2 linked regions of the Homo sapiens genome follow. The protein of the gene in region 2 interacts with the protein of the main gene of each other region in a biochemical or structural test. Each region holds a gene or a part of one and is shown on either strand. Other genes may lie near its edges.

Evidence for each region.
Region 1: the proteins of CCDC88C (region 2) and FZD6 form a complex in vitro, tested with the Homo sapiens proteins (one study listed by BioGRID).

The regions. Positions count from the first base shown.
Region 1 is NC_000008.11:103,329,303-103,333,870, forward strand, and holds the end of FZD6 (frizzled-6 isoform a precursor), read left to right. Parts: intron 1-352; coding exon 353-763; intron 764-2,038; coding exon 2,039-2,207; 3' UTR 2,208-3,564; downstream 3,565-4,568. UniProt on the Homo sapiens protein: Receptor for Wnt proteins.
Region 2 is NC_000014.9:91,270,619-91,275,715, reverse strand, and holds the end of CCDC88C (protein Daple), read left to right. Parts: intron 1-2,062; coding exon 2,063-3,091; 3' UTR 3,092-4,393; downstream 4,394-5,097. UniProt on the Homo sapiens protein: Required for activation of guanine nucleotide-binding proteins (G-proteins) during non-canonical Wnt signaling. Binds to ligand-activated Wnt receptor FZD7, displacing DVL1 from the FZD7 receptor and leading to inhibition of canonical Wnt signaling.

The DNA.
Region 1 (4,568 bases), on a different chromosome or scaffold from region 2:
TTCTGGTTTACTTTTATATTACATATTTATATATTATACAAATACAGTATTATGTATAGTACGTTTATGCTGTTTTGAGCCTCCTTGCCCTCATCCTTTGATTCTTGCCTTAATTTCTTGCCAGTTTACTATTTATACTGACAAAAGCAACTTAGAGTGTATACACAAAAGATTTTATAAAATCAGTTTATGTCCTAGTATTTATAATCCCAGATTTTATAATATAAACCATAGAATTTTCAACTTTAGTGACTAAGGATTTTTGGCAAAAGATATGTGATATCCTTTATATCCTCTACTTTATAGCCACACTTCTAATTTGAGTAAATCCTCTCCTTCAATTTTCTTATAGTCCAATCAGTGAAAGTCGAAGAGTACTACAGGAATCATGTGAGTTTTTCTTAAAGCACAATTCTAAAGTTAAACACAAAAAGAAGCACTATAAACCAAGTTCACACAAGCTGAAGGTCATTTCCAAATCCATGGGAACCAGCACAGGAGCTACAGCAAATCATGGCACTTCTGCAGTAGCAATTACTAGCCATGATTACCTAGGACAAGAAACTTTGACAGAAATCCAAACCTCACCAGAAACATCAATGAGAGAGGTGAAAGCGGACGGAGCTAGCACCCCCAGGTTAAGAGAACAGGACTGTGGTGAACCTGCCTCGCCAGCAGCATCCATCTCCAGACTCTCTGGGGAACAGGTCGACGGGAAGGGCCAGGCAGGCAGTGTATCTGAAAGTGCGCGGAGTGAAGGAAGGTGAGATTTGATTTTATGTAAAATCATCACTATTTTAAATACTGCATTACACATTTTTTATTAAAGCATAACACATTTGGAAAGCATTTTGTGATATATTATGTCTGTACTCTTACCCCAAGGAAGTTTGGGTTCAGCCTATAAATATGCTATTTAGTAGTTTAATTCTTAGCTTTGAGAACAGCTTTAATATAGGTGGTTCAAGTAGGAATGTTCATTTCTGTGGCAATTGTTAAGAGTTCCTTGTACATTTAAGTAAATGCAATTTACCCAAAATACAGGCTAAGTTTTAATTAATACTACATTATAATTCTGTCTAAAAAGTGTCACCTTATACAAAATTATAATGTGTCATTTTATCTAAAATTATTTTATTTTCTGAACATGAAAAGATATTGACATTATCTTTAATGAATTTTCTCAAATGGCCATAGGTGACCAAAACACAGGTAAGCCAGAATGCAGACAGCTAATTGCATTAAGATCTCAAGGTTATCTTACCTAGTCCTCTCAGACTAGGCTAAATGCACCTTCTCTGTGATCCTATGGCAGCTTTCATATATTTGGATTGTAATTAGATACATGCTTTATCTTCTCGTAGATTTGTAACCTTCTCAATGGGAGAGCTAAAGTCTTACTCATCTTTATGTTCCCAGTTTCTTACATGGTACTGATCCATGGTGGGAAATCAATAAAACATTTGTTAAACTGAGGACAGGAATCCTGCCTTATTCTATTCCCCACAAGATTCCATGTTCAGCCCTATATATATAAGTAGTGCTTGATGAAGTTTCTGAAGTAAGTGAAAATTATATTTTAAACAATTATTTGGCCAGGCACGGTGGCTCACGCCTGTAATCCCAGCACTTTGGGAGGCCAAGGTGGGCAGATCACAAGGTCAGGAGATCGAGACCATTCTGGCTAACATGGTGAAACCCCATCTCTACTGAAAATACAAAAAATTAGCCGGGTGTGGTGGCACCCACCTGTAGTCCCAGCTACTCGGGAGGCTGAGGCAGGAGAATCGCTTGAACCCAAGAGGTGGAGGTTGCAGTGAGCTGAGATCACGCTATTATTGCACTCCAGCCTAGCAACAGAGTGAGACTCTGTCTCAAAAAAAAAATTTGTATTTTGAAGTGTTAAAGTACACCTGAAGACTGTTAGCTATTTATTCTCTGATAAAGGTGGACACTGGTTAGGGGTGAAACTCATGAAAAATGGCATCATATTTGTGTTTGTGGATGTGTGTGTGTCAACTTTTTTTCTTTTATCTAGGATTAGTCCAAAGAGTGATATTACTGACACTGGCCTGGCACAGAGCAACAATTTGCAGGTCCCCAGTTCTTCAGAACCAAGCAGCCTCAAAGGTTCCACATCTCTGCTTGTTCACCCGGTTTCAGGAGTGAGAAAAGAGCAGGGAGGTGGTTGTCATTCAGATACTTGAAGAACATTTTCTCTCGTTACTCAGAAGCAAATTTGTGTTACACTGGAAGTGACCTATGCACTGTTTTGTAAGAATCACTGTTACATTCTTCTTTTGCACTTAAAGTTGCATTGCCTACTGTTATACTGGAAAAAATAGAGTTCAAGAATAATATGACTCATTTCACACAAAGGTTAATGACAACAATATACCTGAAAACAGAAAATGTGCAGGTTAATAATATTTTTTTAATAGTGTGGGAGGACAGAGTTAGAGGAATCTTCCTTTTCTATTTATGAAGATTCTACTCTTGGTAAGAGTATTTTAAGATGTACTATGCTATTTTACTTTTTTGATATAAAATCAAGATATTTCTTTGCTGAAGTATTTAAATCTTATCCTTGTATCTTTTTATACATATTTGAAAATAAGCTTATATGTATTTGAACTTTTTTGAAATCCTATTCAAGTATTTTTATCATGCTATTGTGATATTTTAGCACTTTGGTAGCTTTTACACTGAATTTCTAAGAAAATTGTAAAATAGTCTTCTTTTATACTGTAAAAAAAGATATACCAAAAAGTCTTATAATAGGAATTTAACTTTAAAAACCCACTTATTGATACCTTACCATCTAAAATGTGTGATTTTTATAGTCTCGTTTTAGGAATTTCACAGATCTAAATTATGTAACTGAAATAAGGTGCTTACTCAAAGAGTGTCCACTATTGATTGTATTATGCTGCTCACTGATCCTTCTGCATATTTAAAATAAAATGTCCTAAAGGGTTAGTAGACAAAATGTTAGTCTTTTGTATATTAGGCCAAGTGCAATTGACTTCCCTTTTTTAATGTTTCATGACCACCCATTGATTGTATTATAACCACTTACAGTTGCTTATATTTTTTGTTTTAACTTTTGTTTTTTAACATTTAGAATATTACATTTTGTATTATACAGTACCTTTCTCAGACATTTTGTAGAATTCATTTCGGCAGCTCACTAGGATTTTGCTGAACATTAAAAAGTGTGATAGCGATATTAGTGCCAATCAAATGGAAAAAAGGTAGTTTTAATAAACAAGACACAACGTTTTTATACAACATACTTTAAAATATTAAGGAGTTTTCTTAATTTTGTTTCCTATTAAGTATTATTCTTTGGGCAAGATTTTCTGATGCTTTTGATTTTCTCTCAATTTAGCATTTGCTTTTGGTTTTTTTCTCTATTTAGCATTCTGTTAAGGCACAAAAACTATGTACTGTATGGGAAATGTTGTAAATATTACCTTTTCCACATTTTAAACAGACAACTTTGAATACAAAAACTTTGTTTTGTGTGATCTTTTCATTAATAAAATTATCTTTGTATAAGAATTATGGAGTATTCTGTGGTTAGGTATAGTAGTTCTGGCCAAGGAAGTAGTATAATTTTTTAGATTAGTGACTCCATGGCTGGTAAGTCAGAGGCTTCTTTTTAACCTTGAAGGAGAATGCAGTCAAGATTCTTGCTTTTTGTCACTATTTCTTTCCAAAAATGTAAATTATAAAGCTATATTAACTGTAACTTTTTAAAGCCAGTGGGAAAGATCTGGAGTGTGAGGGGTGAAGCAAAAGGAACCCAGGACCCAGTTTTCACTCCTAACAGTGTATTAGGTGATACAGACAAACCTCCCAAAACAGAAGGCTAGAATATGTGGATGAAATAAAACAATAGGCAGATTTCTGTGATGGGGGAAAAAAAGAAATAAAATAATATTAACCCCAAACATTAAAAAACTAATAAGATAGTGAGGAATTGCCAGGTTAAGATCTGGGAGAAGAGAGAAATTCTCACTACAAAGCCCAACATTTGGAGCTGTTTTGCCCAGGAGCACTTGATGACTTGGAAAGGGCAGCTGAGAAGTGGAACAGTGCTATTGACAGCCTCAAAGGGCTGGAAGACAAGGGGTCTGCAACCACCCTACATTTAGAATTGTGACCTCAGAGGGTTGGATCTTAAAAGTACATGTGAGTTGTACATAAAGCAGCCCTGCTTCAAGTTGTCTGGGTAGATAGAAAAAGTTCAAACCCTGAAATTAGATTAAGGTAGCTCAAGCACCAGGTAAATGAAAATCTTCTCTGGAGGAAGAAAATGTTATTTTATATACTCTAAAAGTACCACAGTGCTCATCATACAATCAAACAATCAGGTATGCAAAAAAGACCATTTTTTGTTCATTAAAACATGAACAAGAATTGGCACAAGCAAGAGAAAAAGATCCCCAGGTACTGCTGATGTATTACTAGATACACATCATGTAACTTAAAAGTACAAGCAAGGAAAACAATAAGATACTACACACCTATAAGAATGGACAGCACATAGTGACTTCCTTCCA
Region 2 (5,097 bases):
GGCCAACATAGTGAAACCCCATCTCTACTAAAGATACAATGAAACCCCATCTCTACTAAAGATACAAAAATGAACCGGGTCATGGTGGTGGGTGCCTGTGATCCCAGCTACTCGGGAGGTTGAGGCAGGAGAATCTCTTGAACCCGAGAGGCTCAGGTTGCAGTGAACCGAGATTGTGCCACTGCACTCCAGCCTGGGCAACACAGTGAGACTCTGTCTCCAAAAAAAAAAAAAAGAACTGCTGGTCTAATGGACTGAACAAGAACACTCCAGAAATTGGGGGGGCCCACAGCTGGAAGGCTTTCCTTCTCAGTCTTTTTTTGTTATATGCCCCTTATGATGCTTTCCTTTCCCTTTGGAGATCTGGCAGGCAGGTCCTGAGCAAGGAGTGGGGCCCCTCCCTGCTCAGCTCAGACTGGTCTTCACAGTCCCCATTCCCTGTGCCCTGTACTGTTACCTTTCCATTTTTAGCTTAAATGAGACCAAAACAGTCTGGCTGTAGCAGCTTCTGTTGAAAGCTGATGTCTGGCATGCAGCGAGCCAGCCCCCTCTGTCTGCCTGGTATATTTAACCCCCTACCCCTGACACACCTGACTTCCCTCCTGGTACCCCTGACACACAAGGCCCCTAATGTACACAGGGGCTTCCCATCCCAGGGAAATGACAACCGTATGCCCACCGCGCCCCCACTCTCTGGGCGTCGATGATGCAGGGAGGGCATGTCACAAGATGGGGCTCCCTGCGTGGCCAGGAAGGGTGGGTATCAAAGGCTCTGAGGTGTGCAGGGAGGAGCCTGGTGGAGTGGAAAGCAGCTCTGGAGTCAGGCAGCCATAGGCTTTCATCTGGGTCTGCCTCTCTGGACGCATGGCCTGCCAAACCTCCGTGACCTGTTTCTTTACCTTGATACAGCCTTTCAACAACCTTGCGAGGTCATTTTGAGAATTAAATGAGTTTCTTTGCAATTATACATGTGGTTCCCAGAACAGCACATGGCCCCACAGGTGATGAAAGGTACCTGTGATATCACGGGTCTTACTGGACGCCCACCCAAGATGTGTAGCGTCAAACTAGCATAAAACAGCAGATGTATCTCTGTCCAGTGGCACCATGTCCAGATGTTTGTGTGGGACAGGAGTTGCTGGCAGGTGCAGATGGCTCCTGAGCTACCAACCCGCCTTCAGGCTGACACCTGCCGGCCTCTCATCCCCCATGAACTCACTTCTCTTCCTCTTCATCCATGTCAGCCTCAGGAGAAGCTAGGCTTGCAGAAGGCTGCAGTTCCTGAGTGGGGCCATAGACCCTTGCCTCTGTGGCTCTGCCTATTCCCAAGGTGGTGGCAAATGACACCTGCTCCCTGGGCAGGGGAAGCACAGCCCGGGCGGCAGCTTAGCAGGGACAGTGTGGCGGCTGGGCCTTCCTGGTGTCTTCATTTCCCTGTGCAGCCCCACCATTCCCCCTTCTGGACCCTCGCGGACCCCATTTGTACCTCTCTGTCCCCCACCCCCTCCCATCCCCATTCTGCCTCTCTCTTCTCTTTCTCGGGCCCAGAGAGAGGTCTGAGTGGCAGTGAAGGTTCCGGCGTTTCAAGAGCTGCTCTTGTTCCTCTTGCTCTCGGTGGCGCAAGGTGAAGTCCTTATGATGTCCCGGGGTGACCGGGGAAGGAAGGCCCTGCTCATATCCGCCAGCATTCTAGTTCCTGCTGTGCTTGGTGGAAACCAGACAGACCGAAGCAGTCGGCTATAGTCGAGGTTTCTGGGAAACTTACTCACTTTGTAGGAAGTCATTTCCCTCTCTGGGTCTGTTTCCTTATCTGTAAAGTTAGGGGGTTGCCTGGGGGGAATCTGGGGTTCTTTCCTGGTGGTCCCATGCTGCCTTAGCCACCCTCACCATCCTGCCCAGGGCTGGTGTGTGTGGTGGAGGCGGCACATGTGCCTCGGAGAAGGCAGGCAGGAACTGCGGTCCCAGCCACGTGGGCTGCTCGGGGGCGTCCCGCGCAGGAGGCGGCTCCAAGGACCCACCCAACCCTCATGCCCACCTCCAACCTTCACTCTCTTCTCCGTAGGACACTCCCAGTTGCCGGGATGACCTGCTGAGTGACTACTTCCGAAAGGCCAGCGATCCCCCAGCCATCGGAGGCCAACCAGGACCACCTGCCAAGAAAGAAGGGGCCAAGATGCCCACCAACTTTGTGGCCCCCACCGTCAAAATGGCCGCCCCCACCTCGGAGGGGAGGCCGCTGAAGCCCGGGCAGTACGTAAAGCCAAACTTCAGACTGACTGAGGCCGAGGCCCCACCCAGCGTGGCCCCGAGACAGGCCCAGCCTCCCCAGAGCCTGTCTCTGGGCAGACCCCGGCAGGCTCCGGTGCCCCCAGCTTCCCATGCACCTGCCAGCCGCAGTGCCTCCTTGAGCCGGGCCTTCAGCCTGGCCTCAGCTGACCTTCTCCGGGCCAGCGGGCCAGAGGCCTGCAAACAGGAGTCCCCTCAGAAGCTGGGGGCTCCTGAGGCCTTAGGGGGCAGAGAGACAGGCAGCCACACCCTGCAAAGCCCCGCACCCCCCAGCTCCCATAGCCTGGCCCGGGAGCGGACCCCACTTGTGGGAAAGGCTGGCAGCTCCTGTCAGGGCCCAGGTCCCCGCAGCCGGCCGCTGGACACGAGGCGCTTCTCCCTGGCTCCCCCAAAGGAGGAGAGGCTGGCCCCCCTGCATCAGTCTGCCACAGCCCCCGCCATTGCCACTGCAGGTGCTGGTGCTGCTGCTGCTGGCAGTGGCAGCAACTCCCAGCTCCTGCACTTCTCACCTGCTGCAGCCCCGGCTGCCAGGACCAAGCCCAAGGCGCCCCCACGCTCAGGGGAGGTGGCCACCATCACCCCTGTCCGGGCAGGGCTCAGCCTCTCAGAGGGAGACGGGGTCCCGGGGCAGGGCTGCAGTGAGGGGCTTCCGGCCAAGAGCCCAGGTCGGTCTCCCGATTTGGCTCCCCACCTCGGCCGGGCCCTGGAGGACTGCAGTCGAGGGAGCGTCTCAAAGAGCAGTCCGGCCTCCCCGGAGCCCGGCGGGGATCCGCAGACCGTGTGGTATGAGTACGGCTGTGTGTGACTGTCTCGTGGTTGAGCTCGCAAACCTGAAAACTACTGACGCGCCTTCCGACTCTCACGGCCTTTTCTCTTGCTTGCCTGCGGTGCCAGGAGAGGGTTTGGAATGAGGAAAGGGGTTCCCACGCATTTCTGCTGTTTGTTCTGTGAATGGAAACACTGTGCCAAGCCCCAAGAGGATTACGCTTCCAGGTGTGTAACGTGTTTTCTGTGTCTGCCGCTTCCAGCAGCTGATATCTTTGGAACAAATAATCCACGTCAGCATGGGGACCAATTAGGATGCAATGACAAACTGACTTCCCCCAAAGCAGACACTACTCCAGTATGTCCCAGTAGAACACTCATTTGCAATGTGTTGAGCTCCGTTAAGCACACACACACTCACACAACAGGCTTACGAGGCTCAGGCCTGGCGGGTCAGAAAGCCCACTCCCTCTCCCAAGGCCACTGGATCCCAGGAGAAGCCCAGACTGGCGATACTACAAAGGTCTCCAGGGCCTGGCAGACCCCAGAGTCAGGCCTGCTGTTAAAAAGTGAGAGTGCTGCTGTTCCATTCCTGGGGTCCCAAGCACTTCCCTTTACCCCAGGACCCAGGGCAGCCTGCAGGGCAGCTGGCGGTGGCCTTGGCCATTTGCCCCCAGCCTCCAGCTGGCTCCTGAGCTCTGCACCAGGGGGTTTGGGGACCACACAGGCACCTGCCTTCCTAGATTTCCCTGGCTCACTTTTCTGCAAACACTGGATCTGCCAGGCCTGGGGATTGGGGGGCAGGAAAGAGGCCCCCATCCAGCCCCCTCCAGGCCAGTGTGCACAGTGCACCGAGGGGTCATCCGCACAGAGCGAGGTGCAAGCTCGATGTGTAACCTGGCTGCGGCACCCGACATCCCCGGTCTCGGGGTGTTGATTTATTTCTGAATAACTTTTTGGGTATAGAAACCAATTTTTTTTAATATATGACATGTATATGTACACACTCATGTGAAATATGTATACTTTGGGGGGATCTATTTATGTTCCAGTGGGAGTCACTCTCTTCTGTCGGGAATCTTATCTGCTGCTTTGTGTCTTTGGTCAGATTCCTGACAATTTAGTTTCCTGTTGTAAAGGTGCTTTTCCTGGGGTGAACTAAACCTATTGATTTTTTTTTTTTAAGATTTTTTTTTCCTTTTGATTTAATATACTGAGAAAGAAATGGGAGACTTTTGAATGTTAACAAGATCCATTTTAGGAGTGTTTGGGGTTGTGTATTAAATAGCCATTCATTCTGGAACTCAAGGACAGGACTGTAATAAAATGGAATGGAACCGAAGTGCGTTCTGGCTTTCCTCACTGCACATTGTTAGCATCGGGTGGGCCCCTGGGGACTTGGGGCTCCCTGCGCCCCTCCTTATGCACCCCTCCCTCTGCTCCCCTTCCTCTGTGCCCCTGCACCCCTCCCTCTGCGCCCCTCCACCCCTCCCTCTGCGCCCCTCCCTGTGCCCCTCCCTCTGCACCCCTACCCCTGCGCCCCTCCACCCCCCTGCGCCCCTCCACCCCCCTGCGCCCCTCCACCCCCCCTCTGCGCCCCTCCCTCTGCACCCCTCCCTCTGCACCGCTCCCTCTGTGCCCCTCCCTCTGCGCCCCTCCACCCCTCCCTCTGCGCCCCTCCCTCTGCGCCCCTCCACCCCTCCCTCTGTGCCCCTCCCTCTGCACCCCTCCCCCTGCACCCCTCCCTCTGCATGCCGGCGACCCTTCCTCCACAGTTGGAATCCACCACTTTCCTTGCCACTAGGTGGGGGAAGCTGTTACACGTGCAACCAGAGACAGATGTGAAGGACAAAGATTTCCTGTACGGTGACAGCTTTCCACCCCTCCTCAGGTGTGTTTAAGTTGGCATCAATTGAATCCTATTTTATTTGTTTTTCTAATGGGTCACCACCACCACAGGGGGCATGCAATGGGCTGGAGACCAGTCTGGGCAACATAGCAAGACATTGTCTACAAAAGATAGAAAAATTAGCCAGGCGTGGTGGT